2 separate regions of the Homo sapiens genome follow, and region 1 is linked to region 2. Evidence: fine-mapped expression QTL. A gene starts in region 2. The other region holds a variant in brackets. All regions are shown on one strand. Distances are between the middles of the regions. Region 1 overlaps ST3GAL6-AS1 (ST3GAL6 antisense RNA 1). Region 2 holds the start of ST3GAL6 (ST3 beta-galactoside alpha-2,3-sialyltransferase 6).

The links. PIP is the estimated chance that this variant, and not a neighbour inherited with it, causes the effect.
Region 1: its variant is the best candidate, but not a certain one, in a credible set for the expression of ST3GAL6 in testis (GTEx, PIP 0.54).

The regions. Positions count from the first base shown.
Region 1 is chr3:98,719,656-98,725,187 of GRCh38, reverse strand. The region is part of intron 1 of ST3GAL6-AS1 (ST3GAL6 antisense RNA 1); the gene reads left to right. Among named protein-coding and RNA genes, the nearest start is that of ST3GAL6-AS1, 10 kb to the left of the region's middle. The variant A/T (reference allele first, on the strand shown) is at 3,150.
Region 2 is chr3:98,760,894-98,765,893 of GRCh38, reverse strand. ST3GAL6 (ST3 beta-galactoside alpha-2,3-sialyltransferase 6) reads right to left here and starts at 2,554. Exons shown (of 10, transcript NM_001323368.2): 1 at 2,455-2,554.

The DNA of each region.
Region 1 (5,532 bases), 41 kb after region 2:
GCTATAGATTACAAAGTTGAATATTTTGAATCTTCCTGGGCCCTTGATAGTGAAGAGTCCTGCTTACTGACAATGTCTCAGACAAAACTCTAATCCACAGGCTGAAAAACAGTAACACACCAATACTAAAGATTTGGAAGTTGTTCCTAAATTTTACTTAACCCCAGGATTATTCACAGGTTCATTTGAACATCACTTCAGAAAAGGTGCATGTCCCTTCCAGTTCAGTACCGCCTACCTCCAACACTTACTCTGTATCTGAGATCTCTCAAGGATTCATTACCCAACTTCCATTGAGGGACTAGCGAGTCTTCTATTCCTAGCTCTGACTACTTTCTTAAGTCTTAGTCTTGTATCTCCAATTGCCTGCTGAACATTCAGTTTAACATGTGTTTATCAGTTCCCAATGTAAAGCTAAACTCTTTAGGCTTCCAGCTCAGCCAGCCATTTAACTTACATTTTTATTGGTGATAATGCTTTTTCTCCCACTTATGAAACCTCAGTCATCCTGACCTCTCCTTTTTCTCATCTTACTTGAACTTTCCTCCTTCATGTCATTAACATACTTCATATTCAATCATTAAATACATCTTTACTTAGTGCCTACTATTTGCCAGGCACTATAGTTCTAGGTGCTAGGAGTACAGTTTACCAGCAGGAAAATAAAAAGAAATTATTGCTTGCTCTCTCTAGAGGTGCTCGCTCGCTCTCTCTCTCTCTCTCTCCCACCCTCGAGAGAGAGCAAATTTTTTATTTTTATTTTATAAAATTTTTAGAGACAGGGTCTTGCTCTGTCACCCAGGCTCGAGTATAATGAATAACACAATCATAGCTGACTATAGCCTCCAAATCCTGGGCTCAAGTGATCCTTCCACCTCAGCCTCCTGAATAGCTCAGATTACAGGTGCGCACCACCACACCGGCTATTTATTTTTTGTAGAGACAAAGTCTCACTATGTCGCCCAGGCTGCTGCTCCAACTCATGGCTTCAAGTGATCCTCCGCTTGGCCTCCCAATGTAATGGGATCACAGGTGTGAGCCACCATGCCTGGCTGCTTACAGTCTAATATTTAATGGTGTCCAGAAAGAGTCTTCAGAGGTCATCTTGTTGATCGCTTTATCTCTGTTTCACTTGTGCTTCCCCTCCCATAGTGTTCATTCGCATTCCCTGTGGGAGGTCACCTAGAGCTGGGATCTGTGCGATGCTATCCCAGGGATCCACAACTCACCATTCTACTTCTCAGTCTTGGGCTAGTCGCCCAAACTCTTTCTCTCCTTAGGTTTCTTTTCTCTTTCTCTGTAGAATAACCTGCCTCTTCCACCTCGCCACGCTCATTCCCCTAACATGAAGCACAACAGTGGACTCCTGCTTCTCTGACTCAATCAGTCTAAGATTTCTAAACAAAAGAAACACAAGTTGAGTTGTCTTCTGGATATCTGGTGACTTTTAGTTTTTATTCTGTAACCAAAAAATCACTGAGCCAACAGAACACCAAAGCTCTGTTACCTTCTTGAGATGGAGGAGTGATAAATATTTACAGCAGGGATATATGTGGGAACATAAAGAGATTTAAGAGTAATTCCTGTTTAACAGTCATCTATCAACACAAGGCAAAATATGGCCACCCCAAATATATGAAAGCCCTCAACAGACAAGAAGTCAGATGAAGCAGGGGGAAAAAAAAAAAAAGACCGAGCACAGTGGCTCGCGCCTGTAATCCCAGCAATTTGGGAGGCCGAGGCAGGCGGATCACGAGGTCAGGAGTTCAAGACCATCCTGGCCAACAGGGTGAAACCTCATCTCTACTAAAAATACAAAAATTACCTGGGCGTGGTGGCGTGTGCCTGTAATCCAAGCTACTTGGGAGGCTGAGGCAGGAGAATCGCTTGAACCAGGGAGTCGGAGGTTGCAGTGAGCTGAGAGCGCACCACAGCACTCCAGCCTGCCAACAGAGCAAGACTCCATCTCAAAAAAAAAAGAGGGGAGAGGGGATTTTGCATTCATTATCATATCTAATAGCAACAAATCTAGTAGTTAGATATTACTGAGGTAATATGATGAGAGCAGAAACAGTCAAGGACAGAACCAGAGGCAAACCCAGGTCTCCGTGGGTCCAAAGCAAAGACACACAAACTCACCTGACAGAAGCGGGGGATCCAGTGCTCTTTTAGGAACCCTCTCAATTGACTCTGACATAAAAATAAAAATTTTAACTGAGGAGAACAGATATAATTTAATTCTCAACTTTCTGAGGTTTGATGAAATATTGATAACAAGTAACTAATTCATGTCATTACTTTTTTTTTAACTTTAAGACTAAATTTCAAGTTTGTCATTACATTTCCATTTTTTTCCTTGTAAAAATTGTGCTTTTCTTACTATCCTTAAAAAGAAAGATCTGGGAATGGCCTATTAAGTAAACAGCTGTCTGATGCAGCAGCCCAGACCTTACAGTTTTCCCTTCTTTGTAAATGTTATTTCGGAAAAGATTCAGTACTTTAGGAATTGAGTAGCCTTTTCCAAATTGTATCGTGCTGGGAGATGCTAATCTGAGTTCTAAGAACAAAGGATATCTCGCAAACAAGATTGAGTACTAACCTCGCCTCCCACACCCCTGCCTCCAGGCCATATTCAGTACATATTAGCATATTAAAGAACCAGGTAAAAACAGCAAAAAGGAAAGCTGTTTAACTTTCCTTAAATGTTAAACAGATCTAAACAAGCTTGTTTTTGTGTCAAAGACTTTTTTATTCAGTATTCTATCATAATCTCCTATCTCTATCTCCCAAAACAAATTAAAACAACAATAAAAAAACCAATTGCTGTAGATTTGGGTCTGTATATATCCAGTTGGAGGACCAACAGCTGGGATCTTTGATAAAATCAACTGTGACTATAAAGGGTTAAAGATGAAAGTCACTTTATTTCATTAGGAATTTATTTATCAATCTATTAATTTATTTTAGAGACAGGGCTGGAGTCAATGGCACAGTTATTCATTGCAAGCTCAACTCCTGGGCTCAATCCTCCTGTCTCAGCCTCCTGACTATCTAGGACTAAGGGATAATACTACCACACACGGCATATCTATCTATCTGTGTGTCTGTCTGTCTATCTATCTATCTATCTTTACTTATTTATTTATTTT[A/T]TTTTTTTTTTTGTAGACAGGGAGTCTTGCTATGTTGCTCAAGCTGGCCTTAGATATCTGGCCTCAAGCAATCCTCCCAAGCTGGCTTCACAAAGTACTGGGATTATGGGTGTGAGCCACTGCACCCAGCTCTAGAAATATATTTAGAAGAAAATTGCTTGGCAAACTTGCAGTGACAGGTTTAATATAAAATCATCACTGTATTTTTGAAACCATACATCTATCAGCATTTCCTTTTTTTTTTTTTTTTTTTTTTTTTTTTTTTTTTTTTTTTGACAGAGTCTCGCTCTGTCGCCCAGGTTGGAATGCAGTGGCGTGATCTCGGATCACCGGAACCTCCACCTCCTGGGTTCTAGACATTCTTCTGCCTCAGCCTCCTGAATAGCTGGGATTACAGGTGCATGCCACCATGCCTGGCTAATTTTTGTATTTTTAGTAGAGATGGGGTTTCACCATATTGGCCAAGCTGATCTTGAACTCCTGACTTCAAGTGATCTACCCACCTCGGCCTCCCAAAGTGCTGGGATTACAGGCATTAGTCACCGCAGCCGGCCAGCATTTTCTAATATTTTATTATATAAGTATTTATGTTTTAGTTCATGCATAATAAAATAGATTCTGGTCCAAATCTGGATAAATGTCTGAAATAATTTTCTATTATTTTGTCTGCTGGCTTTTCTCATTTCTATAGAAGCAGCTTGTGCAATGTAAATTCTCTAGCATTAAATACTTTTACAATCAAAGTCTTAGTGCAACAGAAATTCCTTTGGCATCAACCTATGTCTACTTATTTCCAGCACAACTTGATAGTACATCAGAATGTGAACTGAATATTGGAATGATATTTGATATGTGTATCACACCTTCATTAATTTATTGCTTTACATATTTCATGAGAACCTATGTGTCCAGCACAGTGGCATTGTAGGCACTGGACATACACAGTTCTAGATGGAGTTTCTGCCTTGGGAGGTGATATGAGGAAAATAGTCATTGAGACTAAAAATATTTACTGAGATTCATACTTGTCATGCATTGAGCTAGGTTCAGAGAATACAGTGGTGAACAGACAGGTTCCCTATCTTGATGATGCTTGCAGACATTGTTCATTCAAGCTGCTATAACAAAATACCATAAACTGGGTAGCTTGTAAACAAAAAACATTTATTTCTTATAGTTCTGGAAGCCGTTAAGTCCAAGATCAGGGTGCTGGCAGATTTAGTGTCTGGAGAAGGCTTGCTTTCTCATAGATGACAACTTCTTTGTCCTCCCCTGGTGCAAGGGGCCAACCAGCTCTCTGATGCCTCTTTGATAAGGGAATTAATCTCTTATAAGGCTCTTCCTTCATGACCTAATCACCTCCTAACCCCACCTCTTAACACTATTGCATTGAGGACTAGGTACAACATGTTTGGGGGAAACACAAACATTCAGACCATAGCAGATATGTAGACTAATACTATTTCAGCATATTGCAACTATTAGACATAAACAGCATTAATAGAAAAAAGGACACAACCTCCTAGGTACATCAGGAAAGATGGAATTGGTGATGTGCTTTATGCAGAATATAATTGTCTCTTTTTTTCTTAATTTTTCTTTACTAGTATTGCCTTATCTTTGCTTTAAATAAAGCATGCATGTACCCAAGATTTGCCAGAAGAACGATTCTATCTCAGGATTCTCAGCCACTGAGATGTGAAATGGCTTTCCAAAAAAATCTTCAGTGCTCGGACACTCTGATTCATACCACCTAACATAGCTCAAAGCCATAGCATGGATCACTGATGCCTGCCTAGGGTTTCTGATTCTGTAGGATTAAAGTGTGATATGAGACTTTGTACTGTTAACAGGCTCCCAGAAGTTGCTGATGCTGCCAGTCCAGGGGCCACACTTTAAAAATCATAGTTTAAAGGATTAAATATACCAACTTAAAAGTTAAAATAATTATTGGAAGATTGTGAGGCAGATAATATCTCTGTTTCACAGGATGAATAACAAGCCTAGGTTATTTAGAAAATGCAAAGTTATAAGGAGATAGACAAAACTAAATACAGTAATAAATATTTCATGTCCTCAGTGCAACAGTCTATTAACTTGAAGCCCAAAGCCTCCATCTATCACTGATCATCAGAATCCAAAATACTTTGAGGATGAAATGCTTTATTTGACTTGTTATCACTCTCTTTTTTTAATCTCATAGACAGATGTTTTAGAAATTTAGATATTAAAAAGTTGTGACCGCATCTGTGACCAGTATTATAATGCTGGACTTCATGATGCGGCCTCAAGGCCACTGCTTTAATGTAGGTAGGCAAATTCCTTTTTTCTTTCTGCAGCCTCAACCTCCAAGGCTCAAGTGATCCTCCTGCCTCAGCCACCT
Region 2 (5,000 bases):
ATAAGTGGAAGGGCATTTTGCTTTGAGCAAAAACATTCAAAGAAAAAAACAGAATTTAAGAGGTTATCTGCTTTTAAAAAGACATAAGGCCCTTTAATATAGCTTTGATTACCAAAAAAAAGAGTTTTCAAGATCTTGACATTAAACAGGACCAATGCCAGCTTTGTGGCTGCAGATGCTCCTAAAATCAGGGTCCCTAAAACATCCTTTACAAAAATGTGGGTAGAGGATGGCAAGGGAAAGAAGGACTCACTGGCAGAGGACAAATGTTCACATATTCTCCAACTAAGATATGTAACCCAATGTATAAGTAACCTATATATGCCAAATTAAACTCAATCTTGACAAATGTTTCACTTTGCTTTAATAGTAAAAGCATATTTTGTGTGGAGCATCAAAGTTCATAAAAAATCTTTTATATGTCCATCCCTCCATTTAAGGCTCAAAATAAGCTTGTTAGATGGGTGTGCAGGTGTTGTCTTCTTGATGAATGAGGAAAACTGAAGGTTTATAAGGTTGAGTTGTCTGAGGTCACACAGTTTAAGGAAGACAGAAATAGATTTATGGTTCAATCATTTCTTTCTCAGAGTTCCATTCCTGGTGTTATCCTGTCTCTCAAGATAAAAAGCACAAGGCAAATCTAAAAGAGATAATTCTAATCTGAAAATTCCTAATGGTGTTCCATTGGTATCTTGAAGTCTAGAAGGGTAAATTCAGATATTGGTGAAAGGAGGTGACTCTAGGGCAGGCTCAAGAGTCTGCACCAGGCGGGGACTTGTTAACATGCACACTCCTGAGCCTCTACTTAATCTGAATCTCTGGGGCTCAGGAATGTGCATTTAAACAGCATCCACCAATTTGATTCTTATGCACACTAAAATTTTGAGAATCACTGCTCTAAGAAATACAATAGAACCATGGAAGAATTTCTGAAATACAGAGACTGTAACAGATACAGATCCCATAACTAGATGCTTTGTATTATTTTTTTTTACCCTAAATGCCTAGCACGTGGTAAATGCTCAATGAATAACAACTGATTAGAAGCATTAAGATGTATGAGTGCTTAGCCTGTGCCAAGGCATGTGATAATTGCTTTTGGTGTATTACCTCATGACATCCTGACAACCACCTTGCAAAAGAAGTGGTAGACTTACAATTCCTATTTTGTAGAGGAGGAAACCAAAACTCTGGGAGAAGCAACGACTTTGTTGAGCTGACAAGTAGCAGAACGAGGACTCAAATCTGTCTCTATCAGGCCACAGGCCATGCGTTATACTACCTCCCCCTAGATGTGAGCTTTCACAAGTGAGCACAGGCCCCTCCTTTTGCTACCAGACTAAACATTACTGAACATTTCTCCAACTTAAGCAATCCTGCAAGCTCCTTAAGCAATATCAATTCTAGTAATTGATGAAATGGAGGTAAAGCTTATAATACTTTTGATTCAAACTCAGCTGAAATAAAAGCCTGTTACTCCCAACCCTGTTCCCAGTTCTGCTCCTCCCAACCATGCTAGCATTGTTTATAAAAACAAACTCTACGGAGAAACACTTGAAAAAAATGTCAGGTTTTTTTTTAGACTCCCCTAATGCTTTCTCAAACCAAAGGGAGCTTGCTTTTCCAACCAGCTAGAAAAAAGCATGTTCAGCAATAATTCTAGAAACATTGTTCTACTTATCAAGCATTAGGTTAGTGCAAAAGTAATTGTGGTTTTTGTCATTTAAAACCAACCTAATAGAAAAACCCGGTGGGTATCTCAGTCAATATGCAACACCAAGGAAGAAAGACCCTTGGCGTTCTCTATTCCGGATGCTGAGCACACACAAACCTCACCTCCCTGTCTCCTCCATCCCCAGTTCTGTTTCAGTCTGGAAGCAGGTGCTTCCTAATGCCCATCTGCAAGCCCAGCCACCCCAGGCACTGGGACTGATTCTGACCCACAGAAAGAGAGTCTGAGGAGCCCTCGACTAGCAGCTTAACAGTTGGGTCAGGTTCCTGTGGATCCAGTAGTGATCCTGGTCATCTCATCCACTGGACCTGGGTTCCTGCTGCTGGGTGCTTAAACTATACCACACTTTTCCAACGTCTGCATTCTTCTCTTTCCTAGTCACCCTAGCAGCTCTGCAGCCAAACTTCCATTTTTTTTTTTTTTTTTTTAGTCACTAGGATCCTAAACCATGTCCCCATCTGCCCTGGGGTGAGGCACCCTTCTGTTCCCTGCTTCCTCAGTGGCAGACATACTACTCTTTCTACTACTAGGTCTCTTCTCAAACCCAACATGCTGCTGTTCAATAATACTCCTCAGTAACTCACATCTTTGTGCAAATAAGAGAAGCACATCCCCCTTCTACCTCCACACAGCCTGTGGGCACCTAATGTCTAATATCTCAGCAGCATCTAGATTTAAGCCACAACCTTCCCCTTAAGCAGGTAACCTTGTTCATGGCTCACCTCCATACCTTTACCAGGTGGCCCTGCTGACACCTGTGTCCATTCAGCCCCTGGACAGGCCGTCATCCATCCTAGTCTCTGCTGGTCTTCAGCTCACACTGACATACACTCCAGACTGTGTGGAACATGGCCAACAGATTTCACATCCTGCCTTCCTTCCTCTTTGTACTTATTACTCAATTTGTGATTATAATCTGCAGTCACATGCCTACATGAGCAAATCTACAACAGAACCTCCAACTCTAGCCATGCATTAATGTCTAGATTTTTTTTGGTCCAGCCTCATAGGTCCCCTAAGCCTAAGCCTCACAGACCCAGCCATCTCCATATGACCTGAGCCTTAATGTACAGGACTCCACAGTGATGAATGGAAAGGCCTCAGTCCTCCTCAATTCATTTACTACCTCTCTTTTAGGTTTGGTCCTTATTACTAATTAGGTAGTCCAAATGCGTGAGATCAGCTTCATTCATATCCCAAGGATCTACAACCTCTGGCAGCGATGATCATGTAAATGATAGCACAGTTTATTAACCACTTACTAAATGGCCAGCACAGTACTAAGCCCTTTTTCACATAAGGATGAAATCACGGATATTTTCATCCCCATGCTAGATATGTTTAATACCCAGAGCACTGGCCAGAATTCAAACTGAGATCTGATTTCAAAGCCCACACTTTGAAATTGTGGCTTATAGAAAACTATAATAACCATATTTTTAAGAGTATGAACTGTTAAATAATCATTTAATAATATCTTTTAAAAATAAAACAAGGGGATGATACACATTAAATTATGCATTTATCAAACACACTTCTTTAGAAACATTATAATATGAAAAGCTATTAATCTCATAATTAAAGAGAGAAATCCTAAGGAATCAGTAGTCTGGTTGATGGGATTTTCTGCTAGAAGGATGACGAAATTCTCAATAGACCATAATTAAAGAAATAAAAAACAGCACATATAGATTTTTTAAACATACAATATTACAACGAAAAGGCTAAATTTAATCTGAAGTTATAAACTAATGCTATTTAATACAAGTTAAGAAAAAAACTCTGACATTGCTGAGTAAATTAACAGAAAATCTGATTTATGCCCCCCTCCAAAAATATTGAGTTGTGTAGTGTCAACAAATTAGATCAGCTGTATACATTTTGACTGATTTCTAAGAATATAACTATTTTCTTTCTGCATTGCAGAAAGGGAACACGTATAATTAACTTTCTTTCCCTCTCCTCCCCCAACTCTTCTGCTAATACAATGATATGAAGCTGGTTCCGACATGCATATGCACAAACACCCTTCTCTTTCAGCTTTTCAACAAAGCCAGTGCTTTCACCAGTGCTTTCACTGTCCTTAGCACATGTAGACAGATCTTTTCACTTAATTAAAGATAAGCCTTCTGCCAAAGCAGATGACCAGATCCTCTCCTGAAAGTGGGGTGTGCTCACTGCAAAGAATATAAAAAGGAGAGAAATGACTTCTCAGCAGAATTTTCTTCTTTAATAGCACAACAGGACACACTAAAATCATTCAGCTAATAGCAACTATATGGGATGCTAAAAATAGAAGAACTGGAGTTCCTGTTTTCAAGAGCTCTCTCTTCAGACTCAGGTCCATTGCAAGTACACAAGTAAGCTTTTAGGGAACTTCTTTTGTTCCTACTGTTTATTCACATTTTCTTTCCATGCCCATTTATTCTCTTAAAGTAAAAATTGTCCCTGTATTCTCTTATTAACATCCTGCTAATAAGATATCAGCTTCCAAGAAGCATTAGATGTTGTTAACAGGTTGATGACTGTGGCTACTTTTTTTTTTTTTTTTTGAGATGGAGTCTTGCTCTGTTGCCCAGGCTGAAGTGTAGTGATGCAATCTTGGCTCACTGCAACCTCCACCACCCGGGTTCAAGCAATTTCTCCTGCTTCAGCCTCCCAAGTAGCTGGGACTATAGGCACGTGCCACCATGCCTGGCTAATTCTTTGTATTTTTAATAGAGATGGGGTTTTGCCATGTTGGCCAGGCTGGTCTCGAACTCCTAACCTCAAGTGATCCACCCACCTCGGCCTCCCAAAGTGCTGGGATTACAGGCATCAGCCACCATGCCCAGCCTGTGTGTAATTTTTAAAATTGCCTTTATTCATTTTTTTCCTTTTTTTGAGACAGGGTCTCACTATACTGTCCAGCCTGGTCTCTAACTTCTGGGCTCAAGTAATCCTCCTGCCTCAGCCTCCTGAGTAGCTGGGGATAAAATTTTTATACACTAAAATTCGCCACTTTTAAGTGTATCAGGTAACAACCACTGAAGTCATGATTCTAAACATTGTCATCAACCTCAAAAGTTCCTTTGTTCCTCTTTGTAGTCACTTCCTTCTTCCCACTTCCTGGCCCCTAGCAGCCTGATCTGCTATCACTATAGTTTTGCTTTTCTAAAATTTCATATAAATTGAATCATATAATATATATCTTATTTCTGACTTCTGTCAATTAACATAATACTTTTTAAAAAAATGCTCAAGTTGTTGCTTGTACCAGGAGTTCATT